Homo sapiens: one gene and its partners. The protein of the gene in region 1 purifies or fractionates together with the protein of each later gene. This does not show direct contact. Each region holds a gene or a part of one and is shown in the gene's direction. Other genes may lie near its edges. The genes, in order: AOC2, LEMD3 and GOLGA5.

Evidence for each region.
Region 2: the proteins of AOC2 (region 1) and LEMD3 purify together in Homo sapiens (affinity purification with mass spectrometry; 2 studies listed by BioGRID and IntAct, with this or other methods). This does not show direct contact.
Region 3: the proteins of AOC2 (region 1) and GOLGA5 purify together in Homo sapiens (affinity purification with mass spectrometry; 2 studies listed by BioGRID and IntAct, with this or other methods). This does not show direct contact.

The regions. Positions count from the first base shown.
Region 1 is NC_000017.11:42,843,388-42,852,126, forward strand, and holds AOC2 (amine oxidase [copper-containing] 2), read left to right. Parts: upstream 1-1,192; 5' UTR 1,193-1,239; coding exon 1,240-2,827; intron 2,828-5,698; coding exon 5,699-5,984; intron 5,985-6,213; coding exon 6,214-6,343; intron 6,344-6,694; coding exon 6,695-6,961; 3' UTR 6,962-7,320; downstream 7,321-8,739. Other genes in the region: AOC3 (amine oxidase [copper-containing] 3), read left to right, coding at 7,957-8,739. UniProt on the Homo sapiens protein: Catalyzes the oxidative deamination of primary amines to the corresponding aldehydes with the concomitant production of hydrogen peroxide and ammonia. Has a preference for 2-phenylethylamine, tryptamine and tyramine.
Region 2 is NC_000012.12:65,170,090-65,182,200, forward strand, and holds part of LEMD3 (inner nuclear membrane protein Man1), read left to right. Parts: coding exon 1-1,029; intron 1,030-12,111.
Region 3 is NC_000014.9:92,832,305-92,839,304, forward strand, and holds part of GOLGA5 (golgin subfamily A member 5), read left to right. Parts: intron 1-817; coding exon 818-1,043; intron 1,044-3,254; coding exon 3,255-3,360; intron 3,361-5,081; coding exon 5,082-5,145; intron 5,146-7,000. UniProt on the Homo sapiens protein: Involved in maintaining Golgi structure. Stimulates the formation of Golgi stacks and ribbons. Involved in intra-Golgi retrograde transport.

The DNA.
Region 1 (8,739 bases):
GTGGAAAGACTGAGGCTTCTGCCTACTGAGCAAGGTTGGGTGCTTCATTTGTGTTCAGTCTGAATTATGGGAAAGTTAGCTCTTCCCAGACCTAAGCTGCCTTCTCTCCCTACTTTCAGAAGATCCTAGTTCCTTCCTTCCCGAGTGATACCCATGAACTGCCAGTAGAGGCTGCTATCGTTCCATGTGTAAGGAATGAACTGGTTCAAGGCGCGTCCTACCCAGTCATTTTCTTTACCTTATACTAATTCTTCCTGAATAATGTCTTCAGTTTCTTGAGGAGACTCCTAGTTTTGGTTTTCAAATTACTTGGAGGGCTGCCTAGGAATCTATCTCCCTCTGAAATAAAGTTTCCTCATCTTCCACCTTGCAAGTAGCCTTCTGGTTTCCAATGATCCCCTCGTTGTCTCTGTAAAAAGAGTTTAAGGTCTTGAACAATGGAGGAGCAGCTGCTCTGTTCTGTTTCAGAGATGACTACCAAAAGCTAGCGGTTTGTGAGTGCCTCCCCTGTGCCAGGCTGTTAAGTACCTAATGTGCATGATCACATTTAATCTTCAGGAATCTATAGGATAGTTGTATCTATTTGTTACAGATGAGGACACTGAGACTCAGGATAAGTATTTCCGCTAAGGTTACACAGCTGAGGGAACTGGGATTGGTGGACAAACCTGATTACTAAGCCCAGGCCCTCAGCCACTCCACTGGTTGGAAATGGCCTGACTACAAATCAAGGGCTTGGCATTAGGCAACAAGTAGAATTCAGTGCTTACTGCTGAACATGGCAGTGAATCCTGGAGCTGTTGGGATGCAGTTCCTGCCAGGAGGTAGGAAAATGGACAGCTTAGTGCTTGCATGCAGGCTGCAGAACTTAATTGGGCATCTGAGGTTTGTACTCTTCCTGAGACCCATTCCAGGTGGAAACTGGAGGTTAGCATCGTTAACCCAGATTCCCTTTCATCTGGTCTAAATGATGGAAATCAGTAGTTGGTACTGACTGCTACCAGTGGGAGTTCAGGGGCAAGGAAGAGGCTATGCATGTGGAAGCAGTGCCCTGGGCCAAACCACAGGACAGAAAATTGGAACAGAATTACATAAATCAAGGTCAGAAATTTCCTGCCCAACCCATGGGGTGGAGTTTTCTCCCTTCCTATCCATCCTAGCGAATATAAACCCCGACTTGATGTCAGTAACTGGAAGGAGCAGCTGTTAGAATTCTGATTTCAGCTCTCAGCATCCACCATGCATCTCAAGATAGTCCTGGCGTTCCTGGCACTGTCCCTCATTACCATCTTTGCCCTGGCCTATGTTTTGCTGACCAGCCCAGGTGGTTCCAGCCAGCCTCCCCACTGCCCCTCTGTATCCCATAGGGCCCAGCCCTGGCCACACCCTGGCCAGAGCCAGCTGTTTGCAGACCTGAGCCGAGAGGAGTTGACAGCTGTGATGCGCTTTCTGACCCAGCGGCTGGGGCCAGGGCTGGTGGACGCAGCCCAGGCTCAGCCCTCGGACAACTGCATCTTCTCAGTGGAGCTGCAGCTGCCCCCCAAGGCTGCAGCCCTGGCCCACCTGGACAGGGGGAGCCCCCCACCTGCCCGGGAGGCACTGGCCATCGTCCTCTTTGGTGGACAACCCCAACCCAATGTGAGTGAGCTGGTGGTGGGGCCGCTGCCTCACCCCTCGTACATGCGGGATGTGACTGTGGAGCGTCACGGCGGGCCCCTGCCCTATCACCGTCGCCCGGTGCTGAGAGCTGAGTTTACACAGATGTGGAGGCATCTGAAAGAGGTGGAGCTACCCAAGGCACCCATCTTCCTGTCGTCCACCTTCAACTACAATGGCTCTACCCTGGCAGCTGTGCATGCCACCCCTCGGGGCTTGCGCTCAGGGGACCGAGCTACCTGGATGGCCCTCTACCATAACATCTCAGGGGTTGGTCTTTTCCTTCACCCCGTGGGGCTGGAGCTACTACTGGACCACAGGGCCCTGGACCCTGCCCACTGGACTGTCCAGCAGGTCTTCTACCTTGGGCACTACTATGCAGACTTGGGCCAGTTGGAACGGGAGTTTAAGTCTGGCCGGTTGGAAGTGGTTAGAGTCCCTCTACCTCCACCAAATGGAGCTTCATCCCTGAGGTCTCGGAACTCTCCAGGTCCTCTTCCCCCTCTTCAGTTCTCGCCCCAGGGTTCCCAGTACAGTGTGCAAGGAAACCTGGTGGTATCCTCCCTCTGGTCATTTACCTTTGGCCATGGGGTGTTCAGCGGCCTGAGGATTTTTGATGTTCGGTTCCAGGGTGAGCGAATAGCCTATGAAGTCAGTGTCCAGGAGTGTGTATCTATCTATGGTGCCGATTCACCCAAGACGATGCTGACTCGCTATTTGGATAGCAGCTTTGGACTCGGCCGTAACAGCCGAGGCTTGGTGCGGGGAGTGGACTGCCCCTATCAAGCCACGATGGTGGACATCCATATATTAGTGGGCAAAGGGGCAGTCCAGCTGCTTCCAGGGGCTGTGTGTGTATTTGAGGAAGCCCAGGGACTGCCCCTTCGAAGGCACCACAATTACCTTCAAAATCATTTCTATGGTGGTTTGGCCAGCTCAGCCCTTGTGGTCAGGTCTGTGTCATCTGTGGGCAACTATGACTACATTTGGGACTTTGTGTTGTACCCAAATGGGGCACTTGAAGGGCGGGTCCATGCCACGGGTTATATCAACACAGCTTTCCTGAAAGGGGGAGAGGAGGGCCTCCTCTTTGGGAACCGTGTGGGGGAAAGAGTGCTGGGAACGGTGCACACACATGCCTTCCACTTCAAGCTGGACCTGGATGTGGCAGGTGAGTGCTGAGGGGATGAGGATGGAGACTTGGGGGCGGGGTCAGGTGGGGTGGAGGGAAGGGAAGGGAATCTCCCAGGTCAAGCTGAAATAACAAGTGGCAAGAGCAGGGTGTTCCAACACCACAGCTCTAGTGGCAACAGGGCAGGGACTGTTTGAGCATATTCAGTGCAGTGAGTCTGGTACTGGGCTACTGGGTATCTGGTAAAAGGTGAAAAGAGTTCCCCCGCCCAGCCCCTCTGACTTGCTATGATTGTGAAACTAGTTTAAATGTAATGGCTGGGCATGATTGCCTTAGCCTCAAGTGACACTGGGTGGGTGAACTGGCCCAATGGGGCTGGAGTTGGAGCACTTTGCTTCTTCCTAATTCTGAGGGTCAGTAGGGGTGGGGAGGGCAGGGTCCTGAGCCGAGGTCGGAAGAAGTCTGTCCAGAGTCTTCAGGGTGGGGGTCGACCTGGGGCTTAGGAAGGAGAGGGTAGCAAAGCTGGGGTTGCTCCCCAGGATAGGGCCACTCCTCATCGGGAGGGCCATCCCATTCCTGTCATCACAGTTGACTCATGGCAGGCACACAGCTTGCTGCAAGTATGGAAAGAGATTTCTCAAGCACAAAGGGCTCAAAGCACACAGAGGACTTGCTGTTCCTGACAGACTTTGTCAAGGACAGAAAGGAACTTACAGACTCACACACTGATCCACAAAGAAAATTAGAAACTCACCAGACCCTCTCCATTTTAAGGGAAACTAAGGAGGGTGGCGGGAGATGGGACAGGAAATGACTGCCCAAGTATAATGCAACATAAACTAGTATTTCTTGTGAAATGTTTTCTTATCCTCAAGTCTAAAGACATGGCACGTGCGTGCCTGCGTGTGTCTCTGTGCATGCACTTGCACTTGTGTTCGCAGTGGTGTGGAGGGTAGGAAGGACTAATAGCATGATTGAAATGATCATATTAACTAGATTACTCTTTGACATACTTGGATTTTGACTTGTCTTCTGATTGGAAGTTTTTCTTCAGCATCTTTGGCATTAAAGAGGCTTGTTTTGGGAAGTAACATTTATTGGACCCCTAGCGTGTGCAGCATGGGCTGCTGCTGTGGGCCAGAGAGGCTGTGTCAGGCACCAGCTCACAGGATGGCTGCAGAGGCACCAGCTTCAGTGCAGTGCCTCCCGTGCCAGGTACCTTCATATAGGTCTCGTTGAACTTACAGTCCAGACCTGCAGAAAGTGTATGACCAAGTGCTGAGTTAGGCAGTGCAGGTTATGGATGCTGTAGAATTCCAAGGAACTCCCAGACAAAGGTATGAATGTGCTTGCTTCTGAAAAACACTGACAGTACTTCCCACCTTGCTGAGATCAAAAGTGAAGTCTCAGAGCTGGGAGGAGTATGCAGGGGACCATGGGAAGGGATTGGGTTTTCTTTTTTTGAGGCAGTGTCTCACTGTCACCCAGGCTGGAGTGCAGCGGTGCAATCACAGGTTACTGCAGCCCTGACCTCCTGGGCTCAAGCAATCCTCCTGCCTCAGCCTCCTTAGTAGCTGGGATGACAGGCATACACTACCACGCCCAGCTTTTTTTTTTTTTTTGAAGACAGAGTCTCACTCTGTTGCCCAGGCTGGAGCACGGTGGTGCAATCTCAGTTCACCGCAACCTCCACCTCCCAGGTTCAAGCGATTCTTGTGTCTCGGCCTCCAGAGTAGCACACCACCACACCTGGCTAATTTTTTTAAATTATTTATTTATTTAAGTAGAGATGGGGTTTCACCATGTTGGCCAGGCTCATCTTGAACTCCCGGTCTCAAGTGATCCACTCGCCTCGGCTTCCCAAAGTGCTGTGAGCTACCATGCCCGGCCTTTTTTTTTTTTTTTTTTTTTTTTTTAAGAGGCAGTGTTTCATTCCGTTACCCCAGCTGGTGTCCAGCACCTGGGTTCAAGGGATCTGCATCACCCTGCCACCAGCCTCCTGAGTTGCAAGCTGCCACACCCGGCTCAGGAGTCAGTTTTTCAGCTAGCTTCTCCAAGACAAATATCATTATCCCTTTCATAGTTAAAAGAATGTCACTAGTCAGCTGCAAGTGCTTTTCTGTTTATTGGGCACAGCCATAGAACAGCTTTAATTATGCCCAGTGTAGGGATTCAGAAAGTGAATCAGAGAAGCAAATTGGTCCAGGGACTGTTTGGTAGTCCAGTGCTAATAGAACTTTCTGTAGTGATAGAAATATTCCGTATTTGAGCTGTGGCTCTAAACAATAGTCACTAGCCATGTGTGGCAACTGGGCACTTCAAGTGTGGCTAGTGTGACAGAGGAACTGAATATATATATATATATATATACATATATATATATATATATATTTTAGACAGAGTCTTGCTCTGTTGCCCAGGCTAGAGTGCAGTGGTGTGACCTCAGCTCATTGCAGCCACAACCTACTGGGCTCAAGCAATCCTCCTACCCCAGCTTCCCAAGTAACTGGGACCACAGGCATGTACCACCATGCCTGGCTGATTTTTTTATTGTTTGTAGAGTCAGGGTTTCACCACGTTGCACAGGCTGGTCTCAAACTCCTGGGCTCACATGATCCACCCGCCTCAGCCTCCCAAAGTGCTGGGATTGCAGGTGTGAGCCACCTCAGCTGGCCCTAAGTTTTAATTTTCATAGCCACGTGTGGCTAGTGGTTACCCTATCGGATAGGGCAAGTTGGAAGAAGATAGGAGCTTGCTCTTGCCCAGACCTCCTGGCTCCCAGCACAGTGTGCTCTGATGCTCTCTCTGCCTTTTGTCACACCAGTGCAGTGGACATCATGGGGAAGACAGGGACCTGGCCCAGAGACCTTACCTGGTGTGGAACTCATCTCCTTTCCCTCCCCCTGGCAGGGCTGAAAAACTGGGTGGTAGCTGAAGACGTGGTGTTTAAACCTGTGGCTGCCCCCTGGAACCCGGAGCACTGGCTACAGCGCCCACAGCTGACTCGGCAGGTCCTGGGAAAGGAGGACCTGACAGCTTTTTCCTTGGGAAGCCCCCTACCCCGCTACCTCTACCTGGCTAGCAACCAGACTAATGCGTGGGGTCACCAGCGCGGGTACCGAATCCAGATCCACAGCCCCCTTGGCATACACATACCCCTGGAGAGTGACATGGAGAGGGCCCTCAGCTGGGGGAGGTGAGGAGGGCCCTGGCCTGGGTGGAAGGAAAGGACAGCCCCTCCCCTGCCCCAGTCCTTGGAGACAAACTCCCTTCCCACGGCTACCATTCATCCCTGTACCTCCCCTCAAACCCAAGTTAGATACACGGTGGGAAATGGTCTCACACAGAATCGGATCTAAGGGACTCCTGGGCCAGTAAAGGCACTTGACATTTCCCAAAACCACCTTCTTATGATTCCTGGCCAGATACCAGCTTGTGGTGACCCAGAGAAAGGAGGAGGAGTCACAGAGCAGTAGCATCTATCACCAGAATGACATCTGGACACCCACAGTTACCTTTGCTGACTTCATCAACAATGAAACCCTCTTAGGAGAGGTTGGTTGCCCTAGGGACATAGGAAAGGGACACCTGTGGGCATGGCATCTTGGCTGCCCAGCCTCTGGCCAAAGGTTAGAGGGAATGGCTGATTTCCAGTTCGCAGATTCAGAGGCCATGGAGTTTTCTGATGACCAACACAGGTCATCCCTCCTGGGGTGAGATTAGCTCTGGGACACTGGCTCCCCCCTCTCCCCGCACAGCTGCTTACATGGATTGCTCCACGTGTTGTATGGGCATGAGGCTGGGGAGAGTGGAAGCCAGGCTGAGACTGGAGGCTGGGATTGTGACTGAAGGGTGGTTCTTTGGGTCACGCTTCCATAGTCCTCCAGCTCCTCCTTCTTCTTGCAGGATCTGGTGGCTTGGGTCACAGCCAGCTTCCTGCACATTCCCCATGCCGAGGACATCCCAAACACAGTGACTCTGGGGAACAGAGTTGGCTTCTTGCTCCGACCCTATAACTTCTTTGATGAGGACCCCTCCATCTTCTCCCCTGGCAGTGTCTACTTTGAGAAGGGCCAGGATGCTGGGCTCTGCAGCATCAATCCTGTGGCCTGCCTCCCCGACCTGGCAGCCTGTGTCCCGGACTTACCCCCTTTCTCTTACCACGGCTTCTAGTCCTGAGGGTGTGGCGGGCGGCGTGGTTAGGCACATGTACTTTTCCCTGTTTCTACTTTCTATTCTCCGTGTTTTTATCACACCTGCTCCCCAGATTCCCACCCCCTCAATGTTCCTCTCACACGAAACCCCCATCAGTCCCTTTGGTTAATTCTTACTTCCTGTTCATCTCTAAAGTGTTAAATTATAAAAATGATTTTTAAATATTCAAAGAAAAATATCACAAATCCTACTACTCAGAAATAGGTGGTCACATTACATCAGACATCTCTTTATGCATGTGCATTCAAAAGGAAGAGTAGATAGAATTTTGTAAAACAGATGTTGTATGTAATTTATAATAAAAAGTATTAGAGGAATTTTACTTGAATTTATTGTTTGACCTGTTAAGTATCTAGAGTCCTCTGGAGAATACTAAGGAGTCTGGCCAGGGAAATTAGCGCTGGGGGCCAGAGGGCAAGGGGGATAGACCTGGCCAAGGAATGTCATTTGGAAAGCTAAAGGGGCAGGGGGTGGGGGTCTTTGGAAGGAAAACGATAGTTTGAAGTTACAGGAAAATATCTGGCCCTGACTAAGTGGGGGACTGGGGAAGAAGCTGGGCTGAGGTCAGGAGAGGCTGCTCTGCACAGATCCTGCTCCTTCCCAGTGCTGCATTATCTTGAAATTTTCCTTCCCCTTCCCCCTAGCCCCAACTCTCCCCAACTCCAACCCTGACCCAGAAAGTAGAGTGATTTGGAGGCTGGAAGACAAAACCATGTAAGGTCTGTGGAAATCACAGCTGTTCAGACCCGCCTCCAACCCCGGCCACCCCGCCCCCTTGCCCTAGCCTTCCTGTGTCCTTCCCACCCTTAGTCCCAGGCATCTGACTACCGGGAACCTCAGCCAGAGTCCGGGAGCCCCCCACCCCGTCCAGGAGCCAACAGAGCCCCCGTCTTGCTGGCGTGAGAATACATTGCTCTCCTTTGGTTGAATCAGCTGTCCCTCTTCGTGGGAAAATGAACCAGAAGACAATCCTCGTGCTCCTCATTCTGGCCGTCATCACCATCTTTGCCTTGGTTTGTGTCCTGCTGGTGGGCAGGGGTGGAGATGGGGGTGAACCCAGCCAGCTTCCCCATTGCCCCTCTGTATCTCCCAGTGCCCAGCCTTGGACACACCCTGGCCAGAGCCAGCTGTTTGCAGACCTGAGCCGAGAGGAGCTGACGGCTGTGATGCGCTTTCTGACCCAGCGGCTGGGGCCAGGGCTGGTGGATGCAGCCCAGGCCCGGCCCTCGGACAACTGTGTCTTCTCAGTGGAGTTGCAGCTGCCTCCCAAGGCTGCAGCCCTGGCTCACTTGGACAGGGGGAGCCCCCCACCTGCCCGGGAGGCACTGGCCATCGTCTTCTTTGGCAGGCAACCCCAGCCCAACGTGAGTGAGCTGGTGGTGGGGCCACTGCCTCACCCCTCCTACATGCGGGACGTGACTGTGGAGCGTCATGGAGGCCCCCTGCCCTATCACCGACGCCCCGTGCTGTTCCAAGAGTACCTGGACATAGACCAGATGATCTTCAACAGAGAGCTGCCCCAGGCTTCTGGGCTTCTCCACCACTGTTGCTTCTACAAGCACCGGGGACGGAACCTGGTGACAATGACCACGGCTCCCCGTGGTCTGCAATCAGGGGACCGGGCCACCTGGTTTGGCCTCTACTACAACATCTCGGGCGCTGGGTTCTTCCTGCACCACGTGGGCTTGGAGCTGCTAGTGAACCACAAGGCCCTTGACCCTGCCCGCTGGACTATC
Region 2 (12,111 bases), on another chromosome or scaffold:
TCCAGTACCGCGGGCTCAAAGCGCCGCCGGCGCCCCTGGCCGCCAGCGAGGTGACTAACAGCAACTCTGCAGAGCGAAGGAAGCCCCACTCGTGGTGGGGGGCCAGGAGGCCGGCGGGCCCCGAGCTGCAGACCCCGCCGGGGAAAGATGGAGCAGTGGAGGACGAGGAAGGGGAGGGAGAGGACGGTGAGGAGAGGGACCCGGAGACCGAGGAGCCGCTCTGGGCGAGCCGGACCGTGAATGGCAGCCGGCTTGTCCCCTACAGCTGCCGGGAAAACTATTCGGACTCAGAGGAAGAGGACGACGACGACGTGGCCTCCAGCAGACAGGTATTAAAGGACGACTCCCTTTCCCGGCATCGGCCCAGACGAACCCATAGTAAGCCTCTCCCCCCGCTGACTGCTAAATCGGCCGGCGGCAGGCTGGAGACTTCAGTTCAGGGAGGGGGAGGACTCGCGATGAATGACAGGGCGGCGGCTGCCGGGAGTCTAGACAGGAGCCGAAACCTCGAAGAGGCGGCGGCCGCGGAGCAGGGAGGAGGGTGTGATCAAGTGGACTCCAGCCCCGTTCCTAGATACCGTGTTAACGCTAAGAAACTGACCCCTCTCCTGCCCCCGCCACTTACTGACATGGACTCAACCTTGGATTCGTCAACAGGCTCCCTTCTGAAAACCAATAATCATATTGGCGGTGGGGCCTTCAGTGTGGACTCCCCCAGGATTTATTCTAACAGTCTCCCTCCCAGTGCGGCGGTGGCCGCCTCTAGTTCACTCAGGATCAATCACGCCAATCATACGGGCTCCAATCATACCTACCTGAAAAACACATACAACAAACCGAAGCTTTCCGAACCCGAAGAGGAACTTCTCCAGCAATTTAAACGGGAGGAGGTGTCCCCAACAGGGAGTTTCAGTGCCCACTACTTGTCGATGTTTCTCTTAACTGCTGCCTGCTTATTTTTCCTAATACTGGGACTGACTTACCTAGGAATGAGAGGGACAGGAGTATCTGAGGATGGAGAACTCAGCAGTAAGTATTAAATCCTGTGGGTAAGGTAACAAAGAGAATGTTGTTAGTGGTCCGCTTTAGCCGCGCTTAGCGTTTTACATGAAGTGACTTACCTGCAAGAATATGGTTTAACAGCAAAAACGCAACAGTGCGTGCATGTGTCATCTTTCTTAAAGAACACCATTATCGAAATGATGTCATATGGCTGGTTTTAAAAGTTTTCTGCATGATGTATTGTGAAATTCAAAACAATTTTTAAAAGAATATTATAAGCTTGTTAGTAAAACTCATTTGTATATGTGACAATTCTCTTTTAGCCCTGAAAGACTATTTGCGCAGATGCCAGTTACTTAACAAATTTGAAGTATTAGGATAAGGCACATTATAAATGTAGTGTTTTTCCAAATTGAGTTGTGATTCTAATAGGCAATGTAATAGCTCTTGAAATTCGAATTATTTTATAATATTAACTGTATGCATAAATTCGGATTAAATATTTTGTGGTATTAACTGTATGTATAATTTCTTTATAGTGAATGAATATAAAAAAGCAGCAAGGCACACCTCTTAATTTATTTCCCAGCCCAAAGCACTTTCCCTATCATCTGTACAAAAAGTAGTGGTAGGGCAGTGCAGGAGCTTGCAGTCAGATTTCCTTGGATTGGTTTCCAGGTCCTACTATTTACTTGCTAAATGACTGTAGGCAGGTGTGTTCATTGTCATAATCAAAGTATCTCTGCCCTTAAACACAAAAAGAAGATGAATACAGACCATTTTGTGTTCTCTGAAGGAAATAAAGATGAGTAATTGGCGTACACAACTTTATTTTTTTTCCTTTTTTAAAAAAATTTACCAGACTACACTGACGTAGGTGTACACTACTTTAGATTGAACGGAGGAGGTACTATTTGAGGTGAGACCTGAAGCAGAAGGAGACAGCCTTGTGGAGAAACAGTAGACCATTCTGAGCAGAGATTAAGGCCTTGAGTTGAGCAAGAGCCTTCTTGTAGGTTAGAGTGGTTAAGCACCTTGAGCAAAGGGGAGAGAGTCAGAGTTAAAGCTTCTGAACTTTCCTAATCTATAAGATGAGGCCTCTATTGACTAGAATGTTTGTGAAGATTAAAAGAGAAAGTAAATTAGGACAAAATGGACTTCTGAATACATAATTTCTCAGTGTTAGGTCCCTCTCTGCATTCTCCCTGAAGGCTTCCTACTCTTTTCACCCAAGATGAATTCACTGTATTTTTATTTGTATTTATAAAATTGGCTTATTAGTTTTATTTCAAAATAGAGTGAAAGATGCAGTTAGCCAACTCAGATAAAGAGTAGGAGTCAAAATAATGTAAGCTTAGATTTAGATATAGCCAATTCCGAGACAGTCAAATAATAGATTTTTACTCTGTTGCTTAATTACAGGGGTTGAAACAAGAATGAAATTCAGCTCTCACTTTAGTTTATTCCCTGGGAGCATGAGTGTATTGTGTCCTGCCCCAAATATTTGGGAGAAAAAAAATAAGGGCACACTAGAAGTTAAACAAGTAAAAGTTCACATAAATTAAATGACATTACCTATCAGCAGTAGCTATCTGCATCTGTGTCTCTAACAACTATAAGATCTGGCCTTTTTCTTTTCTTTTTTTTTTTTTTTAGACAGAGTCTAGCTCTGTCGCTAGGCTGGAGTGCAGTGGCACAATCTCTGGTCACTGCAACCTCCGCCTCCTGGGTTCAAGTGATTCTCCTGCCTCAGCCTCCCAAGTAGCTGGGACTACATGCGCGTGCCGCCACACCTGGCTAAATTTTTTTTGTATTTTTAGTAGAGACAGGGTTTCACCATGTTAGCAGATCTGGCCATTTTCTAAGAGCTAATTGCTTTACACCTATTGTACCATCTAATCTTCCCAGCAACTCACAGAAGCAGGTGGTGGTATCCTCATTTTTGGATGAGGATGATACTAAGTTAAGAAATGCACTGAGTGTTGAACAGTTAGTAGTAGGGCTAAGATTTGGTTTCAGATTTTATTTCCAACTAGAAAGACCATTTTAACACTGTTTTGGTTATTGTTTGTAGAGAGCTTTCTAAATAAGTGGGTACCTTTATTATGATTAAGAAAGTAATTGACTATTTGGTAGGATTTCATACAGAATTATTGATAAGCACAATTCTCAGTTAAGGTGACTTTCACATCTTTCTCATCAGTGTTAAGATGAATGACTAATGTGGTGTACTAAAAGTTCAGGTAGAATAGGATAGGAATGCTAGGATTTTGGTACTCTTCACCTTCACTGATAAGGAAGGAAGGAAATTATATTTACATTTTAGTAAATGGTAAATGTGAAGTAATCTGGGCGTTGGAAAGAACAATGGCTAAGAAGTAGAGGATCTAGGTTCTAGGACTTGTCTGAATGACTGTGGTCAAGCTCCTTAATCTCTGAGCCTCATTTTTATATACTAAATGGAAGTAATAATATCTGCTGTCTCTGGGTTTGTTTGTGAGGGTCAGGTGAGACAGTGTGTTAAACATAAGGTGGTATTATTCAGAAATTTGGACAAAATTTGTTGTATTCCTGGTAAACTACAGTATATCTAGAGAGATAAATAGTTAAGACATTTCTATAAATGACATAGTATAGTGCATTTCTTAACCTAACATTTGATTTTTATCCCATTAAATATACATTATAGAAATTAATACAGAAATTTGAATCAAAGTATAATGAATCCTTAAATGTATGATACACTTGATGTATTGTATGTCTACCCTGTGGAAAGAAGTGCCTGCTAACTTCAGTTAGTCTGCACACCTAACAGTGTTAGGGTATCAAGAGTGAATAATATTTTCACTCCATATATATATACACACACATACATACACGTATTCCATATCCTTTGTTATATTATGATGCTTTAACTGTAGAGTTCATTGGTCAAATAGTATGCTTAGGGAAATACGTTTACTTTGAGTAATAGTTTTCACCAGAAGATTGTAGGTTATATGTGAGAGTAACTTTTAGGAGGCTTTTATTATTTAAATTACATATAACATATAGTAGATTAGTCTTTTAAATTGTTCTTAATCATATAGTCTTTGAAACTTTTTCATCAATGCCCTATTTTTTTATTAATTAAATTGCTATAAGTCTCTTCTTCCTCATCTATAAAACTAGGGGGTTGGATTAGATGATCCCTAAGCTCTTTCCAGCTCCAAGATTTAAGATTTTAACTTTGAACTGCCATACCAAAACAACTCAAGGATCAACCTGCAATCAGAGTAGTCGCTTGTTCCACAGGTGATTAGATCATTATAGCCCACCAAACGAAAATAGAGAAGCAGAATAGATTGACTGTCCTAGGCTCGTATGATCATTATTAATTTTTTTTTCAATTACAAAAGACATGACTTCTGCAGAAAGTTTGAATAGAGATGAAGGAAACAGTGAATGGTTATTGTATGCCTCTCTTCCTAGCCTCATGCTGCCCCCATATAAATAAGTTCAAGTATTAGATCCTTTCTGACCTTTCTTAGTATTTTTCATGTAAATACATCTCTGTGTGTGTGTGTGTATGTGTGTGTGTACAGATTTTCATTCAACAGCAGAGTGTCTACTATGTGCCCGGTATTATTTTAAGCAGCAGGGATATGTGGTGAACAATATGTTGCATATGTGGAAGATGAAATCTCTGTTACAGAGCTTACATTTCTAGGAGGGGAATGGACAAGTAAATAAGAATTTCACATAATGGTAGTTGCTAACACAAGGTATTGCTGGTAACTTTTGGGGGCTGAGGTGAAGAGATATGCAATATTACATAAAGGTAGGCAGACCTCTCTGAGGAAGGATGTTTGAACTGAGATATGAATGACTTGAGGGAACTAGCCTTTGATCAGGAGAAGAGCATTCTGGCAGAAGTATCAGCAAGTGCAGAATTCCTGAGGCAAAAACAGGCTTGTGTGTTGAAGGACCAAAAAGAATGGCCAGTGTTGCTGGGACATAATGAATGAAGGGGAAAATGGCATACCATGAAGTTAAAGGTAGGTATGGGCCAGATCATAAAGACCTAAACGCCTTGAGGGCCGTTGAAAGGAGTCAGAATTTTAAGTGATATTATAGCATACATATTCTGCAACTTGTTTTTTGTATCATGGGTAACTTTTCCATATACTAATTTTAAGTACAGAGGTATAATTTTAAAATCTCATTTTCCACTAGTCCCTTTCTCATCCTATAAAAATACTAAAATCTCTACCATTCTAAAAATGTTGCTCTTCTGTGCTCTTTTCTTCTCTAGTTGTTACTCTTCTCAAACTTTCTGCCTCTATTTTCTTCCCTGCCATTCACTCAACCCTGTCTAGTTTAGCTTTCTTTACCAGCCATTCCTCTGCTACCTCTCTTCTTCAAGTCACCAGTTACTCAATTTTCAAATCCTCATCTCTTTGGTACATTTAGTGCATTGACAACTCCCTTCTTCATGAAACTTTCTCCTTTCTAAGCTTCTGTATCACTACTCTCTCCTAGTTTTCATACTTCTGTCTGCCTGTTTTAAATATTGGTGGTCTCCACAACTTGATCTTTGGCTGTCTCCTTTTGCACACATTTCTCTAGGAAGTTTCATTCACTCTCCTTGTCATTATCTTCCAGTTTTGTATTTTTACCTTGGATTTCTCCTGAGATCTAGGTATACCTATTTGTTTACTAGACATCTTTTGGGTATACTAGAAGTATGTACCAATACCATCTGACATTTTCTTTATATTTACCTTGTTTTTGCTCCTCCTCCCTGTTTAGTTAATGGTGCTTCCATCCACCCAGACAGAGCTCAAGAGAGAAACCTTGGATTTACCTAGATTCTTTCCTTTCCCTCACCTTCCTACAAACCCCCAACCTAATTGGATACCAAGTCCTGTAGTTCTGTTTCCTCTATATCTTTTGAATCAATCTTTTTCTGTCCCTCGCCACTGTTCTAGGTTAGTCTCTTGCCTGAACTCTTTCAGTAACCTAAAATGGTGTCCCTGCTTCTAGGCTGTAGCTCTTCCAGTCCATTTGTCAGTACAGAGCAGCGTTTCTAAAGCACAAATGTGATCATTCCCTCTTGCTTAAAATTACACAATGGCTTTCTCTTAGTTATTGGCCAAAATCTAAACTCGTTGGCTAAACTGTTCATGATCTGACTATGCTTGCCCTTTCTACCAGTCTCCCTTATCACACTTACTTTCTAGAAAACTGAACTGTTTGCTGTTTTCTGAGTAAGTCATGAAATTTGTGCTTTTCTACCTTTGCACAGGTTATCCCCTTTTTTGGGAATGTTTCTTTATTTTGTAACTGTGATTCATTCTTAAACATGTCATCTCCAGATATCTCTGACTCTCCATCTTTTTACCCTAGAGTTTGGCCCATCATTTTGTGCTCAAATAAGACATTAATTGCATCCTTCATAGTATTTAGGACAAAGTATTATATTTGTGTGTCCACCATGCCAAATAGATGACAGCTCCTTTCTTTAGAGTAATATTTCTATAGGAGTAGAATACAGTGTTAAAGAGTACAAACTTTTTACTCAGTTCTGATTTTGGCTCTACTTTTTAAAGTAGACTATACTAGAGATATAATTGCCTCATACTAAAAATGAGATTGATAATACTATCTGAGGATGACTTGTATTAAGTGAGATAATGCATCTAAACTAGTGTTGTCTGGCACATGGAAATCTCTTAGTAGATGGAAGTCACATTAGTATCTTCAGCACAGATTCATTATTCAGCAAATATCTGTTGAATAAATGATCACATATCAGGTACTCAGGATATATGCACTGTTAACTGGTAGTATCTAACTCGGTAATTGGTTATCTACTTAGTATCTGGTAAGGATATATAAAAGAAATCTTATTTCTGTAGAAGCCTCCACACCACTAATAACAGTAATAGGAAATGGCTAAGAAACATACAGGATATTATGTGGTTACACACTTTTATAAAAGGGGAGAATTCACTGTAAATTCTCAAATGATCAGTCTTACATGATCAAAAGTTCTAAATTCAACATTTGGATTTTATTCTGTAGGTTGAGTAATGGCAATTCATGGAGGTTATAAAGCAGAGGACAAGCATGATCGAATTGGTCCTTTAAGAAGGATAAACAGGTGATGGTTTAGACAGTGATAGGGTTGGAGGGAAGGAGTAGGGTGATGACACCTGAAGGAGGTGGATAAGTGGGAATGGAGTTGGGCCTATGAATGAAATTCATTTGAAGAAAGACATATGGTTTTGAGTATAGAGAATAAGAGACAGATAGGAGTCAAAGATTATTCTGGCCATGAGCCTGGATGACTGAGAGAATGATAATATCATTGGAGGAATTAGAGATGTGGAAGAGGGATCTTGTTTGGGGAAAAGTGGTCTAGGGAAAATGAGTTTACTTGGGGCTTATTATTTGAGTTGTTCAAGTGAAAAATTCTTGTAGGCTCTTGTAGATACAGAATTGGAGTAAAGATGAGAGACTGGTGCTGAATGTGAGTACTAGTACTGTTTACTAAGGGAATACTTTTAAATGTTTGTTTTTTTAATGTGTTGTTGTTTTCTTTAAAATCAAGACCAGTTGTTACAAAGAAGTAACATGTTTTAATGTCATTGTCGTTTAAAAAATATTTTTACTTCTTAAAGTAGACTAGCCAAAAGGTCCCGAACTTGGTATCTAAAATGAATATGGGGAATAAGGATTTTGAAAAATAGCTGTTGCTCTCATTCTTTTTTTTTTTTTTTCAATATGAGACAGGGTCTTGCTGTGTCACCCAGGTTGGATTGCAGTGGTGTGATCATGGCTTACTGCAGCCTCAACCTCCCAGGACTCAAGCAATCCTCACAGCTCAGCCTCCTGAGTAGCTGGGACTATAGATCTGCATCACCACATCTGGCAAATTTTTTGTATTTTTTGTTGAGACAGGATCTCACTTTGTTGTCCAGGCTGGTCTTGAACTCCTGGGCTCAAGCGATCCTGTCACCTTCGCCTCCCAAAGTGCTGAGATTACAGGTGTCAGCCATAGCAGCCGGCCTATTCTCTCATTCTTGAAGAATGAAAGCTCCATGTTATGTTTGAAGTTTTACGAGTTGACTGCTTTGTAAGAAAAAAAAAAAAATCCTAGATCTATGAGAATATTCCCGTGAATGCCAGGGATTTGCATATACCAGTTTGATGATTTCAGAAATTAAAGTCTACTCTATGAAAATGTTTTTCATTTGAAAATTTTCCCTAGAATGATTTAAATTAAAAATAATGAGGAAAAACTTGTGAATCTCTACAGATATATCCACGGAGACTAGTTTGAGGATACACTGGCATAGCTATCAGAGAACCTGGGCTTCAATATTGGCCCTTCCACTTACTAGCTTTTTTTCACTAAGGCAAGTTGCTTAGCCATTGTAAACCTCAATATCCTCATATGAAAAATAGGTTAAATGAGAATGAAGTAATGTGTGTAAAGTAAAACTCATACATGGCACATAGTAATAATAATAACTAACCCTTACGTAGCATTAACTGTGTTCCAGGCACTGAGCTAAACAATTATTATTTAATCCTTATGAGGTAGGTACTTATCCCATTTTATAAGTAAATGGAGACACTGAGAAGTAACTCGCCCAGGGTCATGTAGCTAGTAAGTGAAGCGGCAGTATTTGAACTCAGACAGTGGCTCTTAACTGTTCTTCTAGATTGCCTTTTAATATGTATAAATAAGGACTTGATATATGTTCTCTACTATTATTGTCTTTATTTTCAGAAAACTGTGACAAGTATAGATTCATAAAATCCTAGAAGTGGCAGGAATAATCTATGAAACCTAACAACTTTAGGAAAAGTTGTATTCATTCAACAATTATGAATCACATGGAACTATTTATCCTTAAGGTTTTAGATTAATTAAGGGGGAGGGGGCATCTGCTATGAAGCAAACTATAATATATAATACATAGAACAATAATACAATATTAAAACTATTTCTAATTTTTAAAATATTTGCAGTCTCAAAACTGGTAGGGAAAGTGATCTTTTGATTTGTATTACCAATTACAACTTGTTCTTTCTGTTGTTCATTTTTAGGATATAAAGAACTTTTCATACATTTGATCTCCCTTTTTTGCTCCTTTTGAATAAACTTCATATTTTCCCTTTATACTCATATATGTTTTAATGGAAATGATGCATTTGATAATTTCAGGGACACTAAAATAATCATGAAAAATTATTTTCATGATTCCTAAGAGTTGGGAAGTTCTTAAAGCTTGCTTCTCCTTGCTCATTGATTATTCAATATTAACTTTCCCTATCTGAAAAATATGTTATATAAATGGAAATTTATAGCCTCAGTGCAAAGATAATTATATAGTTTGTAAGTTGTTTAAAAGAGAAGGACACCTTAAACTGTTGGAACTCTCCAAAATGTATTTGTTAATAAATAAGTACTACTAACTTGTTTGTGAAAATTTTATTACTAATGATATAATCTAAATTCGAATGAAGATATATTCTAGGGGTGGGGAGAATATCAGGAAAAATAGCTAATGCATGCTGGGCTTAATACCTAGGTGATGGGTTGATAGGTGCAGCAAACTGCCATGGCACGCGTTTACCTATGTAACAAACCTGCACATCCTGCACATGTATCCCAGAACTTAAAATAACATTTTAAAAAAGATGTATTTTAATCTTGTATTGATTATACATTAAAAATTGCTGCCATTTAATATGGGAACATAGCTTAATACTAATTGTGGAAATTGTTATAACAGTTATTTGCTTATAACTTTGGATTTTGATTTTCATATTTAGATTTATTTTTAACATAGATTTTATTTATTTTTTATTTTTTTGGAGACAGGATCTTGTTCTCTCGCCCAGGCTGGAGTGCAGTGGTGCAATATCGGCTCACTGCAGCCTCCATCTCCTAGGTTCAAGTGATTTTCCTGCCTCCACCTCCCAAGTATCTGGGATTACAGGCACATGGCACCACGCCCGGCTAATTTTTGTATTTTTTAGTAGAGATGAGGTTTCACCATGTTGGCCAGGCTGGTCTTAAACTCCTGACCTCAGGTAATCCACCTGCCTCGGCCTCTCAAAGTGCTGGGGTTACAGGTGTGCGCCACCGTGCCCTGCCCTAACATAGATTTTAAAGTGAACCAGTAACAGTATAGTTGAGCAGTAACCTTTGGATTTCACTGTTTTAATAATCTATGCTTTAAACTGCATCAGTTTATATATTATATATTATATATATAGTTAATAATATTCTTTATTAACAATATTGCCAAAATTTTTTTAAACAAGAGTTTACCAGGAAGAAAATAAGTTAGGTTTTAATAATTTATTTTGCATGTTTAATATCATTATTTAAAAAATATATTTCTTAGGAAATTAGCTCTTCAAAAAGGTTATAAAAGTTATAGTAACAGAGGTAATCTCTAAAAATAGAATAATGCATCTATCATATGGAAGCCATCATGAATTACTTTTCATATGTCTTCATTTTCTTTTATGTCAAGGTATAGTTTAAAATTATACCACTGAATTTTTCCTGGGTGCTAGATTTATTGCTCTGTGCTTTTGCACAGCTTTTTACTTAAAATGCTTTTGCAAGATGACTTCTGAATTCATCTTTACAGCTATGTTACTATCAAATGGCAAGCTAAAGTTTAAAAACAAGGCTTGGTTGTAAAACTATGCAAGAGTGTAGTTCAGCTCTCCTGAACTAATTGGGTAGTAAGTATGCACCAATTGCTGTTCTGCCCTGAATATGACATGAATAGAAAAAACCCTTTAGTAGCAAATGGATATTTTAGCACATAGCAGAAAATTAATTTTGTTTCTCAGTTAGCTCATATATATCTGAGTATGTACACAAACACACACACACACACACACAATTTTCTGACTATGGCTAATTCCTGAAAGCATGCTGTACTTACAAAGGATGCTTTTGCTCTGTAGGAATTCACCAAGGTAAAATTTTCAAAGCATATGAAGAGGATTGTTGAAATTAATTAGGAGGTGAGGGGAATCTTGGGATATCTACTTCTTCTAGCCTCTGAGCTATGGCTTGGAACCTTGGTCAGCCTTATTAAGGACTTCCTTAGTTTATAAGTGTATCTCCCATGGGATCACAAATGCTTTCTTGTTTGATTTAGTTCATTTGAAGAAACATTAAGTTTCTCCTACTCATTTATTCATTCAGTCACGCATTCACCCAGATTATTTATTGAGCACCTATACTATGTACCAGGTAATGGCAGAAGATAAGTATATATCATACCTTTTAGAACTATAGGAGTGACACTCTCCCCACGCTTTGGCTGGCATTCTCTTCTTTTTCCTAAATATTTCTGCACTAGCTAGCCTTCAGAATTGGGATTTTGTTACCATGCAACAGTGTATCAGATTTATATATTGTGACTTGGGAAACATACTTTAAAAATTAGTTTCTGTAAATTTGAGTATACCATCTGGTAAAGCTTATCACAGTGTATATATACACAAAAGAAATAGTTGGCTAATTGAAGTAATGTGTGTTGATCATTCCTTTCACCTTTTCTGTATTACCATTTTCTCAATTGGGAATTCTACCTTTAAAAACCACACAATTTTAATAAATGTAGGTTTTATTTTTTGCAGGTTTTTAGGAGTAATTTTTAAAAAAGGAAGAGACATGAAGAATGAATTTGCCAAAAATGAAAATGTTATAAAATCTGAACATTTATGATTATGGTTCAAGATGTTCTAGAAATATTCTTATCCTTTTGACAGAAGTGTTTTGTTTTTTTTTTTTAATTTCATCTCTAAATGTCCCGTCTTTCAGATTTTAAAGCCTTAGGTGAGAAGAGCAAACATTTATTGAGAATTTTCAATGTGTGTGAGCATTTTATTTTAATTTTCATGAGGGTAACTACTCATACTATGTCTGTGAGAAAACGGAAAGATAGAGGGAATAAGGTTACAAGTGATTTGTCCAAGGTCCCACAGCTACTAGGTGTTGGAGCCAGCATTTGAACCCAAGATCTAACTTTAGAGTTCACAGTATTAACTACCAGGCAGCAGTAGAATTTTTTTATACTTTAT
Region 3 (7,000 bases), on another chromosome or scaffold:
AATTTGTGGGGAGTGCTGTAAGGGATTTATAAGAAAGAAAGGCAGGTGGAGCCTAGATAAGAGAAGGGGATTGAGTTTCCAAACAGAGGAAACGTGGCCGGCATAGCGGAGGCTGGAGGAGAGTAGAGGGAGATGGAGACAGATAAGACCAGATGGAAGATGGAATGAAGGAAGTCGTTAAGTATCAACTTTCAGCCAGAGTCTCCTAGGACAACTATCATTTACTGTCCCTAAATACCATGTGCAACGGGTGCTGTCATCTTCACTAACAGATGAGGAAACAGATTCAGAGAAGTATAGCAATTAACCTGAAGTCAAATAGCTTGAAAATTGCAGAGCAGAGATGAAAACCTCAGAGTGTGATCTTTGCACTGCACCGTAACTGTTGAATGACGGAGGCTTTTGAATCCCTGTTGAAAAGTGTGGATTGTGTCCTCTAAACCCATGCTTTGAAATACTTTGACCATGACGCCTCAGTGAGAAAAACAGTTTACATCGTGTCTCAGTACTGACATGCACTTACATGTACCAAACTGAAACAGGAGTTTCACAAAATTATACTTTTATATATACTATATGTTACATAAATATCAGAATATGTCCCATTCTATTACATTTTCTAAAATGCTGATTTTGACCCACCAAATTGATTTCATGACCCCAGTTTTTGAAAATCACTTTTGTAGACATTGAGTCAGTATAGAGTTTTGAGAAATCAATGAATGCCACAATTTACCTATGAAAATGTAGTAGTGTGATTTCTGTATTGTATGACTTTCATTTTATGTAAGAATTTTGTGAACACTTTCTCTTTCAGCTTACCAATAAAACTTTAAGCAATAGCAGTCAGTCTGAGTTAGAAAATCGACTCCATCAGCTAACAGAGACTCTCATCCAGAAACAGACCATGCTGGAGAGTCTCAGCACAGAAAAGAACTCCCTGGTCTTTCAACTGGAGCGCCTCGAACAGCAGATGAACTCCGCCTCTGGAAGTAGTAGTAATGGGTCTTCGATTAATATGTCTGGAATTGACAATGGTGAAGGTAATCAAAAAAGGAATCTCAAAAGAACATTTCATTCAAACATGCTTTTGAAAAGTTATAGAAGGACTATTTTTATTTGAAAGAAACTTCATCCAGTGAAGGACTCAATTTTCTGATATGAGACCTGGGCCACGTACTGTTTAGTATTGTTAGTGAACCGGATAATGGACTAATTAATATTCCTCACCAGTATTAGACTTGGGGAAAGTAGTCTGAGGATTGATAATTATATTGTAATGTCTGAGACACTTAACAAGATGATGCTGACAAGGCGAGGAATTCAGTAGAGAGGAGCTTTCAGGACACTTGAAACAAGATTTGCTTTAATAATCTTCCAGTAAATAGTTACGGGTATTAGAGCTAATACATAGTTCACATAACCATATCTAAAGAAATCTATAGATTCCCAACATATGTAATTAAAAAATAATGTGTAAGATAGTATAAGCATCAACAGATCAGATTTTTAATCTTGGAACTTCGTAAAGTCTACAAATTGTCATTCAGCAAATTTCTCAGTTCTTTGGCTTTAAATTATTTCTTTTAATAAAAAAAATTGTTTAAGAGACGCTGGGTGCCAGGTATGGGGATGGCACTGTAATTTAAAAAGGGTGATCAGGAAGACCTCGTTGAAAAGTGTCACTTCTTTTTTTTTTTTAATGTATAATTATCATTTTATTTGTAATTGTTAATTACAAGTAAAAATGAAATTATAAATAAGTAAATCATACTCCTTAATGGCATAAATAAAAAGTGCCTCGCTTAAATTAATAAAATTTTCCTGACCATAACTTCTGTGATTTTTTTAAGGGTTTTCAGTTTCTTTTAGGTTTCACCTTTTTTTTTTTATTTTATTTTTTTATTATTATTATACTTTAAGTTTTAGGGTACATGTGCACAATGTGCAGGTTAGTTACATATGTATACATGTGCCATGCTGGTGTGCTGCACCCATTAACTCGTCATTTAGCATTAGGTCTATCTCCTAATACTATCCCTCCTCCCCCCTCCCCCAGCCCCACAACAGTCCCCAGAGTGTGATGTTCCCCTTCCTGTGTCCATGTGTTCTCATTGTTCAATTCCCACCTATGAGTGAGAACATACGGTGAAAAGTGTCACTTCTTTAAAGTCCCAAAGGAGGTAAGATAGTGAACAATGAGGAGGCATAGAAAAAAAGTGTTCCAGGCAGAAAGAAGAGCAGGCACAAAGGCCTTGAGGCAGGCATGTTCCTGGCATATTTCAGGAACAGCAAGGAGGCCAAGGCCTCTGGAGTAGACTGAGTGAAGAAGACACTTGTGTAAGATGAATCCAGAGAGCTTAGAATAGGCCGTTGAGGCCTGTATGGGGACTTTTACTCTGAATGAGGTAGGAAGCCATTGAAGGATCTTGAGAGGGGGGACTGATCTGACTTGCACCTTAATAGGCTGCCTCTGACTGCCATGTCAAGAATAGACTGCACAGGGCTAAAAGTGGAAGCAGGGAGACAGGGCAAGAGGAGGCCGGAGGTGGGTGGGTAGCCATTGCATTAATCCATGTGAGAGATGGTAGTCTAGAACTGAGTGGGATTGTGAAGGTGGACTGAGAATTTATTTTAAAGGTAAGCTGACAGAATATGTTGGCAGATGAGATACGGAGTTTGAGAGAAAGAAGTCAAGAGTTTTGGCCTGAGCAGATGGAAGGATTGGAATTGTGATGTCCTGAGACAGGGAAATGGCAGCTGAGGCAGGTTGACAGCGAGGACAAGAACTCTGAATTGTAGTGTTAGGCAGGCTTTGGGGTGCCCGTTAGATATCTGGATGGAAGCGAATAGGCAGTTGGATGAGTCTGGCAGGGGATGAAGCCTCTGGGCTGGAGTACACATTTGGGAGTCCTCTGCTTCATAGAAAGACCACCCGGCCTCACTCCTCCTCACATAGGAACAAAGGGCCCATTAATATTGACTCTTGTCAACGCTTAGTATTTGTAAATTTCTTAATTTTTGCTAAAATCATTTTCTTATTTAAAACTTTTTTCTTGTTGTGGATATGGATGTTTAAATATTTATGTCATCAAATTTACCTGTCCTTTCTTTATAGTTTCATCTACTTTGGGGTGATGCTTAGAAAGTTGCCCTTGAAAATTCCTTCCACATGTAATACAGTGTATTTCCAATTATAATTGTCTTAGTTAATTTTTATGTCAGTACACTAATTTATTTTCTTATTTAAACAGGCACTCGTCTGCGAAATGTTCCTGTTCTTTTTAATGACACAGAAACTAATCTGGCAGGAATGTACGGAAAAGTTCGCAAAGCTGCTAGTTCAATTGATCAGTTTAGGTAAGCAATGCCAGTAGGGATGAGTGATGGACCATCAGCTGTTTTTACGTTTTTCAGGGTTTCAATCACAGTGACTCCCATCAGGCAGAGTCTATATTTAAAGTGACTTACTCCTTTCAAGATATTTTATACTTATATACACTTTTATTTATTTCACAGTTATATTACACTTTCATGAAGTGACTTCTTTCATGATATTTGAAATATCATGTCAGAAATTATGTCAAGAGGTCTGCCAATGCCTACATTTTATTGAAGATGATTAACCCTGACTGTATCTCTTTTTTCTATAATAAATTCTATTTTTAAAAACTTCATTAAATTTTATTGAGAAAGCCTCTACTTCATGTAAAAGTATCCATTTGAATGTTTTATCCCAGAATTTTATCATGCTATTAGAATAAAAGATGCTACTATATATAGCTGAACAGCACTCATTGTATTATATATTTTATATAAATAACAAAATTTATGTTTATGTATATGTAAATTTTTTATATTAGCAGACATCTGCCTTATCAAAAAAATATTTTAATAGTTTACATATAGCATTGATAAGGTTCTTGTCTAAATAACCTACTGTACCCTTTTTCTTTGTAGTGTTTATAATGAAAAGTTTTAATGAATTGTGGCATAATAATCTTTTTGTACCTTTTTGTGTCAGAATTGAGCTATTGTATTAAAAATAAGAATGATATACCAAGATGACTGAAGCCTCAGAACTAGGATGCCATAGCCATTATGTCCAAATTAAGCACATCTAGTTCAACTATTCATTTATTCAACATACGTAGTTGTTAGAGAACCTAAGTGCAAGACATTGTGCTAGTGGCAATGAAAGAAGCAGAAAGGGGTATTGCTTCTGCATGTATCTGTCTTGATAGGGAAAAAAATGTTGCAGAGGCATAATAGATCTGGACATCATATTGCTTCCACACTATTTATTCAAATGCATGAGTTTATAGCTTTGTACCTTTTAGAAGCATGTATCTATACAAAAGCTTCTAGATTAGCTATTTGCAGGTTAATGCCAACCAGACTCTTTTTTTCCCCAGTCACATAGTTGACACCCACCTAATCTTTCGTAACTTCTGTAATTCCACTAAAAAAAGATTTAGGCCGGGCACGGTGGCTCACACCTGTAATCCCAGCACTTTGGGGAGGCTGAGGCAGGCGGATCACCTGAGGTCAGGAGTTTGAAATCAGCCTGGCCAACATGGCGAAACCCCGTCTCTACTAAAAATACAAAAAAATTAGCCAGGCGTGGTGGTAGTGGCGCACCTGTAATCCCAGCTACTCGGGAGGCTGAAGCTGGAGAATTGCTTGAACCCAGGAAGCAGAGGTTGCCGTGGGCAGAGATCGCGCCATTGCACTCCAGCCTGGGCGACAGGAGAGAAACTCCGTCTCAAAAAAAAAAAAAATTAGGGATCAAGTTTGCCTCCTACAGTTGTGGCTGTAGAATTAAGAGAAATACCTGTGCTGAAGTTTAACAGCCAAGCCCCAAATAATGATAAAAGCATTTATTTACCTCTATGACATTTTTATATTATTATTTCAAGTAATCATTTAACAGTCTGCTATAAAAATTGTTCTTCTGTGGTAGCCACATAAATAGTTTAAATGAGTTAAATTTATCAGCATCATTAGATATTACCACAGGAAGATTTGTTTTGACTGTGACTCTTCTCTCTCCTCTCCCCCTCACACCTGTGTCTGCACAGTATTCGCCTGGGAATTTTTCTCCGAAGATACCCCATAGCGCGAGTTTTTGTAATTATATATATGGTAAGTAAATTTATTTGAAAAAACAATGATGCACTTGATTTTTAACTAGTTTTTTTTTTTGTTTGTTTGTTTGTTTTGGCTACAGATCTTATTGATATTTTAGCAATCAATCAATTTTTTTTTGTTTTTTTTGAAACAGGGTCTGGCTCTTTTGCTGAGGCTGGAGTTCAGTGGTGCAGTCTTGGCTCACTGCAGCCTCTACCTCCCAGGCTCAAGCCATCCTCCCACCTTTGCCTCCCAAGTAGCTGGGACTACAGGCGTGCACCACCATGCCCAGCTAATATTTGTATTTTTTGTAGAGACAGGGTTTCACCATGTTGCCCAGGATAGTCTCAAACTTCTGGGCTCGAGTGATCCTCCCACCTTGGCCTCTCAGAGTGCTGGGATTTCAGGAATGCGCCAACGCACCCAGCCAGCAGACAGTTTGGAAAGAGAGAACTCAGTTTTAGTAATTAAGATTTCTTTTGGTAGAGTATAAATTGACAATTCATTATGTCTAGAATATAAATTCCTCAAAGGCTTTTCCTACAAATAAAATTAAACGCAGTCTAATAGTTACCTCCATTTTAAAGCCCTTCTAATGATAAAAACAATTTGAATACAAAACAATTTTTTATCTTGACGTTGTAAAGTTGCTTTAATTGTTTTCATGTGTTTTGCTTTATTTTCTAAAAGAGCCTCAAGATTGATTTACTTTCTCCCAGATTTCTTACCTCTAGTAAAATGGTTACGGTAGTTTGGGATGCCATTTCGCATGTACCGTGTGCCTAAAAAGGCTGCTAACTATTTGGAGTGGGTATGTCTAAAAGTAGTTGGGTTGAATGAAAATGGGCTGTTTTCTTGAAAAGAAATTTCTTTAAAAAGAAATTTCTCTGTGATCCACTAGAGGGAAGAGTTATTCCTTTAAATACAGGTTTTGTGTTGTTTTTTTTTTCTGAGACTGAGTCTCGCTCTGTCACCCAGGCTGGAGTGCAGTGGCATGATCTTGGCTCACTGCATTCTCCACCTCCCAGGTTCAAGCGATTCTCCTGCCTCAGCCTGCCGAGTACCTGGGGCTACAGGCGCACGCCACTGCACCTAGCGAATTTTTCTGTGTTTGGGAGATGGGTTTTCACTATGTTGGCCAAGCTGGTCTCAAACTCCTGACCTTGAGTAATCCGCCCTCTTCGGCCTCCCAAAGTGCTGGGATTACAGGTGTGAGCCACTGCACCTGGCATAATAACAAGTTTTTAAGAAGGAAAGCGTGGGGAGTACAAAAAAAAATTGAATGGCATCAGAAAGCATTCAGAATATGCCCCAGAGGGGTTGATTTCCCAGGTGTTAGTGATGATGAGTAACACGGGCACTGTCATGAGATGGTGCCCATGAGATGTGATTTCTGGCACACGACAAAGTGGTGAGGCACTTAGTGATGGAATCTCGTATCATTTCGGTACTACCATGAGGGAATTAAATTTGTCACTATGAATCGTGTTCTGGGCCCTACATCAGCCTCTGAAACGACACATTATTTCTGTCTAGAATATTTTCCCATCTCTTCTTCACCGAACATTGGTTAAACTCTCTTTCAGAATACCAACTATAACTGTTCTAAAAGTGTTTTCTAACCAACTTCATGTGTATCTAGCAGTTTTAATCACTCTGCATTATAATCAACTGATTATTTTGCATACACGTGCATATTGTGAATGTGTTGAAGTTCAGAGCTGACTCCTCTCAACTGAATTCTGTAGGAGTAGCAAGTCTTTATTACCTTCCATTGCACTGAGCTCATTTAGTTGTTTCATTCATTCCTTCATGTGTCCCATAGGGGATACAGAGGCAGGTAAGACACAGTGCCTGCCCTCAGTGTACA